Regions from separate parts of the Homo sapiens genome. Here regions 1 and 2 are each linked to region 3. The links come from fine-mapping of genetic effects on gene expression. A gene starts in region 3. Each other region holds a variant in brackets. All regions are shown on one strand. Distances are between the middles of the regions.

Region 1 (2,762 bases), 24 kb before region 3:
TTATTTGAGATGGAGTCTTGCTCTATCTCCCAGGCTGGAGTGCAATGGCACGATCTTGGCTCACTGCAACCTCCATCTCCCAGGTTCAAGCAATTCTCCTTTCTCGGCCTCCCAAGTAGCTGGGATTACAGGGGCCCGCCACCACACCCAGCTAATTTTTGTATTTTTAATAGAGATGGGGTTTCACCATGTTGGCCAAGCTGGTCTCAAACTCCTGACCTCAGGTGATCCACCTGCCTCGGCCTCCCAAAGTGCTGGGATTACAGGCGTGAGCCACCACACCCAGCCAAGTCACCCTTTCTTGATGCAAGAGTTGCAGACCCTCAGGACAGAGCCATGTGAGGATATGGTCACAGTGGACTACTTTGGGGAAGGGGCTTGTGCTGGGGCAGGGGGAATCTGATTGCTTCAAGGGTCCCTTTCACAACTACTGGAGAGCTCCACAGCTCTCATTAGTGACAACCTTCATCAGCCTCCAAACAAAGAGGGTCACTAGAGGCCCTCAGGGGAAGCCTCACTACACCAGCGGAGATGTGATGGAGCGGGTCCATGCCTGGAGAACAGTGTGAACCGGATCCATGGCTGCCAATTCTCAGTCCATACCTAAGTACCAGCCCCTGACAAGTACCAACTGATGTGTAGGAAACGATACACACACATCAGTAGATGTTGGCATAAAGTTACCAACTGTCCTTTCTTAGGAAATACTGTCTATTATCCTGAGACTTGGGGTGCTCAAAGCTCCTTTCTTTTATGAAATTATGGTGACAATGGATTGTTGAATAGAAACTTTGTTAAGCAACCCCTCACTTAACCAACTTATTAGGTCAACCAATACCCTTCAGTCTCTTACTGGAGCACACTGACTAAGCCTGAGGCACAGAGTGCTCACAGCTGGCAGGCTCTTCTCTGCTCTCACAGTTGTGGTACCTGGTTAACAAGAATGCATTTGGGCCCATACTTGCTTATGCTGGTCATACGTGTTAACTAGAATGATGTACTTGAATCAATTCACCTGTAAACAAAGGAATTGGCCGGGCGTGGTGGCTCACGTCTGTAATCCCAGCACTTTGGGAGGCCAAGGCAGGGGGATTACCTGAGGTCAGGAGTTCGAGACCAGCCTGGCCAACATGGTGAAACCCTGTCTCTACTAAAAAATACAAAAAAATTAGCCAGGCATGGTGGCAGGTGCCTGTAATCCCAGCTACTTGGGAGGCTGAGGCAGGAGAATTGCTTGAACCTGGGAGGCTGAGGTTGCAGTGAGCTGAGATCACGCCACGGCACTCCAGCCTGGGTGACAGAGAAAGACTGCACCTCAAAAAAAAAAAAAAGAAAAGAAAAGAAAAAGAAAATACAAAGGAATTTAAACAGAAAGACTATTGACCAATAAAATAAGAGTGTAAAAAAAAAGAGAACGGTTATCTCTACAAAAACTAAACTGCTTTGGAAAGACACTATAAAAGCCTGTCACTTTTTAAAATGCTATCAAATTAGGAATGAATGAGAGAACTGTAAAATATCGGAAAGAAATGCATAAAAATGAAGAAAGATTTTGCAATCAGGTGGCTTCATAAGTTTCTAGAATTTCTTGCTTCATGTTAAAGAAACTGGAACTGAAACCCCAGGATCATGTGTGTGTGGTTTGTGCTT[C/G]AGGAAAGGCAATGGGCCCCACTTTTCAGCAGACTTGTAAGCAAAGCAAAGGCTTTAGGTCTACATCAAAATACTTGCTAATAACTACACATTTAGATATTTTAAGTCAAAATAAAACATGTAGAGGAAAAATAGCCTTGGCGCAGTGGCTCAAACCCGTAATCTCAGCACTTTGGAAGGCTGAGGCAGATGGATTACTTGAAGTCAGTTCAAGACCAGCCTGGCCAACATGGTGAAACCCTGTCTCTACTAAAAATACAAAATTAACCAGGTGTGGGCGAGTGTGGTAGCTGACACCTGTAATCCCAGCACTTTGGGAGGTCGAGGTGGGCAGATCACCTGAGGTCAGAAGTTCAAGACCAGCCTGACCAACATGGTGAAGCCCCGTTTCTACTAAAAATACAAAAATTAGCCAGGCATGGTGGCACATGCCTGTAATCCCAGCTACTTGGGAGGCCGAGGCAAGAGAATCGCTTGAAGTCGGGAGGCAGAGGTTGTGGTGAGCCAAGATTGCGCCACTGCACTCCAGCCCGGGTGACAGAGCAAGACTCTGTCTGGAAAAAAAAAGAAAAAAGAAAGAAAGAAAAGAAAAAATACAGTATATCTCTTTTATGAGTTCCGGGTTTAACAAACTTTTTCAATGAACTGACCAATTACCAATTCCTGTGAAATTGAATAAGAATTTACCTACTTGGTTCAGACATATTTGACTTTGGCAAAGAAAACTGAAAAGCTAAAAAAAATGTGCCTACTTGGTAGAATAAAAGGCTGATCACTGTATCTGTCCTTGCCAATCTAAAAAATTTATTGGTACATGAAATCAACCGATTCCAGCAGTCTCCCCTTTCCAAGGCTAAGCAGCTTTGAGCTCTATTTTTCAAGATGTCAAGCAAAGGTAGCCTTTCACCTCACTTGAGTGCAAATTTATCTTACTCATGGATTTTGGAGGTTGCCAACTCAGTAGTTTTTTTTTCTCCCTCAACTACTCTCAAACAGTACTATCTTCTGAAAGCCAATGATATGCACATAGTTCTCAAAAGGAGGCTGTCCAAAGCTTACAGGCTTATCAAGTGGAATCTTTTTTGACATGAGGCCTCACTCTGTCCCTGAGG
Region 2 (2,762 bases), 150 kb before region 3:
CAGTGTTGAGGTCCACGAGCTTTCCCAGGGAGCTAACTGCCTGCCAGGCACAGGCTTAGGAGCAAGGAAGGGGTGGGCACACCCAGTCCTCTCCTGAAATCGCTGCTGCTCTCAGCTCAGGCTCTGGGGGCGCTGTTAGCCTGCTCTTTCAGGTCCTTAAACTTCTCTCTTAATGATTTGGGGCTAATTCCACAAGGAGCAAAAACATTGTGGGGCACACACTGAATCCCACCACAGAGCCTCCCTCTCCTTGGATATTCAGTCCAGACCCTGACTCTGAGCCAACATGGGCAGCCTCCTCCACCTCCACCCCCACCATCTTTTACGGAGCTTCCCGCCTACCCAGCCTTGCAAAGAAACTGACTTTCTCCCTCCACCATCATTTACGGAAACTCTCGGACCAGGGCTGACCACAGGTTCCCAGCTGTCTCACCCTTCTGGGGGCCCATTAAGTAGCAGCCCTGGGGCCAGCCCAGACCTGTGGGGACACCCAGGGTTCCCACGTGGGGATGCAGCATATGCCTCCAGATATGTAAGTGAAGCTTTACAAGGAGGCGCAGCAGACATTGACATTGAATTAGAGAAGGAGCAATGATCTTGGAAATAAAAGTATTTAGGTTTGGACCTTGACTGTGCCTTTTATAAACTGTTTAATCTAAATTATTTGCACCTCTAAGAGCGAGCTTCGGTCTCTTGTTTTCATCAGGATTGCAATAAGAATTAAATGAGATAGTGGGAAACAAGATATGTATTACAGTGATTAGCCTAGTAAGTACTGGTTTTCTGTCCCCTATTCCCCCTTCTCTCTGATGGATCGTGGTGGCATTCCTGATCTTAATAATGACGGTAATAATGATTAAAGTTGCCAAATCTACTTAGGGCTTACTGTGTGGGAAGCAGTTTACCGTTTAATCCCCACCCTATCCCGATAAGGAGATTTGAGAAGCTTCTATGCACACCTCACTCCCTCTTTCTTGATATCATTTCTTCCTCTTGCCCCTCGCCAGCCTTTTCTCATGCCTGCCTCACCCTGACCCGCCAGAGCAGACCTCCCTGCACCCAGGACCTGCCCTGCTCATCTGGGACACAGAGAAGGAGCAGAGCTGAAGGCAGCATGGCAGCCCCAGCCCTCTGGGTCATCTCACCAGCATGGAAGTCCCTTGTGGCAGCAGGGTCTGAGGCTCTTTTTCCTTCTCACATCTCTCGTTTCCTTCTCTGGCCTCTTCTGGGTTTGGTTCTCAGAGCTGGTGAGAGTATGGAGGAAGCTGGGGCCATGGGGCACTATGTGGTCAGGTGAAACAATTTTGAGAACTTGCTGAAGTTCTTCCTAATAAAACATGTTT[G/A]CATTTGCTGTTCCTCTTTCTGTTCCCAGTAAAGACAATGTCCCTCCCATTACCCACAGCTGACAGGCCTGCCCTTCTCCAAATCACAGCATGGCCCAGGACCAGTGAGACTGGGCCAGCTGCCATCTGGATTTTCTGGGCAGGTCCTCCCCTCTGTGAATGGCCAGTTTTCTGTGGCCAGCATGAGCCGCCCCAGGGTATGGCTCAGCCTTCACTGGATGGATGAGACTGGCTATTTGCAGAGCCCAGTGTAAAATCAAACCTAGGTTTCCAAAATTATTAAGAATTTCAAGATGGTGACAGCCAAGCATGAAACGTGGGACCCTTCTAAGAGCCGGGCCTGCGAGACTGCACAGGGTAGGGGCACACCCACGATGCCCGCTGGTCTATCTCTGATCCTTGGTGGTACAGATAGGCTGGGTGCAACCTCAGAGGCTCTGACCTCTTAACCCCTCACTCTTGCTCTGACCTCAGCAGACCCCAGAGGTCCCTGTCTTGGCCACGTGCCTGACTGTTTCCACAGACCTGGCACCACGCAGAGCTTGGTGGACCATCTATAAGCCTTGCTTTTGACCTGTGTGGCTCTTCCTGTCGCCCAAGATGACCACATATAAGAGTTTCAATATATCAAGAGCTAACTCGGGGGAACCTGGCCAGAAGTGTGCCTGATATACACAGAATGGCTGTGGAGGATTTATAAATGCAAGCACAGCTTCAGAAGGCCTCACTCAGGGACTTAGATTTCTGGAACTAGGAGACTCCAAATTCCTGGCATTCTGTTATCAAATGTCTCCTCCTTGGTGTTTCAGTAAATGTGTTTCCTGCTTGTTCATTTTTTGCTGCATGTGGAGTCCTCATATTTCTGTGTGTGTTCACATGTGTGTATATGGGTGTGGTATGAGGGATATATGTGTAGTGTGTGTGGTGTGGGTAGTGTGTGTAGTATGTGTGGTATGTGTGTATGTAGGTACATGTGATGTATGTGCATGGTGTGTGGGATGGTGTGTGTGTAGTGTGTGTGTATGTGTGGTGTGAGTGGTGTGTGTGAGATGTGTGTAGTGTGTGTGTATGTGTGTGGTGTTTGGGGTCGTGTGTGTGGTGTGAGTGGTGTGTGTGGTGTGGGTGGGATGTGTGTAGTGTGTGTATGTGTGTACATGTGGTGTATGTGTGTGATGTGTGGGGTGGGGTGCATGTAGTGTGTGTGTTTGCATGTGTGTGTGGTGTGTGTGCACAGGTGGTGTGTGTGTAGTGTGTATGTGTGTGCACGTGTGTGGTGTGAGATGTGTGTACATGTGGTGTATATGTACAGTATGTGGGGTAGGGTGTGTGTAATGTGTGTGTGGTGTGTGTGATGTGAGTGGTGTGTATGAGATGAGATGTGTGTAGTGTGTATGTGTGTACGTGTGTGTGGTGTGTTGG
Region 3 (2,762 bases):
GCTGAAACTCGGGGCCAAGTGTCCATGAGCCACTCCCTGCTCTTCCTGTACCAGCCTAGCAGTCCTGGACAAGTCACTTTCTTCCCCAAGACCTTTTCTCCAATCTGTCCCACCAGGATCTTCTGAAGCATGAGGCAAAGCCGTGCTGACCTCCCTCTTCCTCAGACGTGCCCAGTCCAAGCTCATTCCTACACAAGAGCCCTCGTATCTACTGTTCCCTGTGCCTGGAAAGCTGGTCCCGATCCTGTGTCTGATCCTTTTCCTAGGTCTCGGCTCGGACAGGCATCTGGGACCCTCTTCAGGGGGGTTGTTTCAGCCCACCTGACTTACAGCATCCCCCTACCTGGGTCCCACTGTAACATATCATCTTGTTCTGTTTTCCTCACAGTACTTATCACTTCTCACTTCTTGAAATTATTTTTTTGTTTTCTTTCTTTTTTTTTCTTTTTTCTTTTTTCTTTTTTTTTTTTTTTTGAAACAGAGTCTCGCTCTGTCACCCATGCTGGAAGGCAGTAGTGTGATTACAGGTCACTGCAGCCTCCAACTCCTGGGCTCAAGTGATCCTCATGCCTCAGCCTCCAGCCTCCCAAGTAGCTGGGACCATAGGCACATGCCACCATACCTGGCTAATTTTTGTACTTTTTGTAGAGACAGGGTTTCCACATGTTACCCAAGCTGGTCTCGAATCCCTGAGCTCAAGCAATCAGCCTCCCAAAGTGCTGGGATTACAGGAATGAGCCTCTTTCCCTGGCCTCCCTTCATTTTTAATAAAAATTGTATGCACCAACTTAAGGTGTCTCCTGCCCTCTGGCTCTGCCCACATCTCAGTCCCTCCTTTCCTCTACGTCCCTGCCAGTCTTATCTCCTCTTGACCTTTCCGTCCCTCAGCAACTTCTACTATTTCCTTCTGCCCCAAATGCCTAGAACCACCACTCCCTCTCTGCCCAGCAAACTCCCTCTTCCCTCCTTTCAAAGTCCTCCAGCCTCACCTCTTCCCTGACGCCTGCCCTTGCTCAGAACACCTCCACGCAGGTGACAGATCACCCAGTCCAGGATCAGGCAGTCGCCTGCTCTCCTGAGCAGCCCATGTTCCTCCTCTGCTTTTCCCTGGCCGGCGGGGCCTACAGTCTGTCCATTTCACATGATCAGCCCCTGGGGGTCAGGAATTCTGCCTTGCACTGGCTTCATTATGAAGGTCATGCCCTGTATTCCTGCCTTGGCAACGGAAATGCTAGGTGAATGGTGGGTATGTGGATGAAACGCACAAGGCTCATGCCATTAAGGACACCTTCTGGCCGGGTCCCTTCTTCCCTCTCTCAGCCACCTCCTCCTGCTTGCTAAGCTTCCCCAAGAAGACAGACCCAGGCCCGCTCACCTGAGAGCCAGAAGAGGAGCAGGTAGAGTGTCAGCAGGGGCATCTTCTCTTCAGACAGGTCCCCGTTCCCCTCAGTGGAGCCTGGCAGCAGGAACAAACTACAGACTCCCAGCCTTCTGCTGGTACTCACTCTCGCCCTTGAACTTCCTCCTTCAGTCACTTCCCATGGGTGAAAGAGACTAAAAGAGGAAGGAGGTGGTTGGTTGGGCACCGTGGCTCAGGCCTGTAATCCTGGCACTTTGGGAGGCCAAGGCGGGCGGATCACGAGATCAGGAGTTCAAGATCAGCCTGGCCAACATAGTGAAACCCCGTCTCTACTAGAAATACAAAAATTAGCCAGGCGTGGTGGCGCACACCTGTAGTCCCAGCTACTCAGGAGGCTGAGACAGAAGAATCGCTTGAACCTAGTAGGCGGAGGTTGTAGTGAGCCGAGATCGTGCCACTTGCACTCCAGCCTGGGTGACAGAACAAGACTCTGTCTCAAACAAAAACAAAAAAAAAAAAAAAAAGAGGAAGGAGGTGGAAAGGGTGAAATTTCGAGGCAGTTGACAATGCAAGGGGTCACAGGAATCATCAGCTTCTGAGAAGTACCTCTCTGTACACAGCCACCGTGGGTTCTCTAAAAAGAGAACTTCGTGGCTCCTCTGTCATGTGGAAACCTGCAGACAGATCCACTGGGTCTGGCCAGCCCTTATCCAATCCTCCAAACCTGGTGGGTTGGCTGGGGGCAGGGGCACGCGGCTCCACCAGAGGGGTCCTGGAGAGCCACGGCTGATAGACACGATGTCCTAAACCTGGAGCTTCAGGTGTAGCCAGATGCTTGGGAGCCCAGAAGGCCAGAAGTTCAAGAGGATTGAGGGGCACTTGTGGCCAAAGTCAGAAAGCCAGAGGAGAGATTCCAGACCAAAGGTTGGAAGGCAGCTATGAGGAGATTGGGTATCCAACCCCAGACTACAAGGCCAGGTACGGTGGCTCACACCTGTAATCTCAGCACTTTAGGAGGCTGAGGCAGGAAGATCACTTGAGGCCAGGAGTTCAAGACCAGCCTGGGCAACATGGCAAGGCTTCATCTCCACAAAAAAAAAAAAAAAAAAAAAAAAAAAAAGTCAGGCATGGTGGCTCATGCCTGTAATCCCAACACTTTGGGAGGCCAAGGTAGGCAGATCACTCCAGGTCAGGAGTTAGAGACCGGCCTGGCCAAAATGGTGAAACCCCATCTCTACTAAAAAATACAAAAATTAGCTGGGCGTGGTAGCATTCACCTGTAATCCCAGTGACTCGGGAGGCCGAGGTAGGAGAATCACTTGAACCCAGGCGGCAGAGGTTGCAGTGAACCCAGATCGCACCACTGAACTCCAACCTAGGCAACAGAGCAAGACTCTGTCTC

What was found. PIP is the estimated chance that this variant, and not a neighbour inherited with it, causes the effect.
Region 1: its variant is fine-mapped to the expression of CD300LF in whole blood (TOPMed, PIP above 0.99). The same link has a PIP of 0.9 or more in blood mononuclear cells and monocytes.
Region 2: its variant is fine-mapped to the expression of CD300LF in whole blood (TOPMed, PIP above 0.99).

Annotation. Positions count from the first base shown.
Region 1 is chr17:74,687,236-74,689,997 of GRCh38, forward strand. It overlaps a transcript of RAB37 not described here. Among named protein-coding and RNA genes, the nearest start is that of RAB37-AS1, 11 kb to the left of the region's middle. The variant C/G (reference allele first, on the strand shown) is at 1,651.
Region 2 is chr17:74,566,204-74,568,965 of GRCh38, forward strand. CD300H (CD300H molecule (gene/pseudogene)) reads right to left here and starts at 1,306. Exons shown (of 4, transcript NM_001405511.1): 1 at 1,146-1,306. RefSeq lists an enhancer at 2,653-2,762. The variant G/A (reference allele first, on the strand shown) is at 1,344.
Region 3 is chr17:74,711,449-74,714,210 of GRCh38, forward strand. It overlaps CD300LF (CD300 molecule like family member f), which reads right to left and starts at 1,475. Exons shown (of 7, transcript NM_139018.5): 1 at 1,376-1,475. The coding sequence starts at 1,418. It also overlaps a transcript of RAB37 not described here.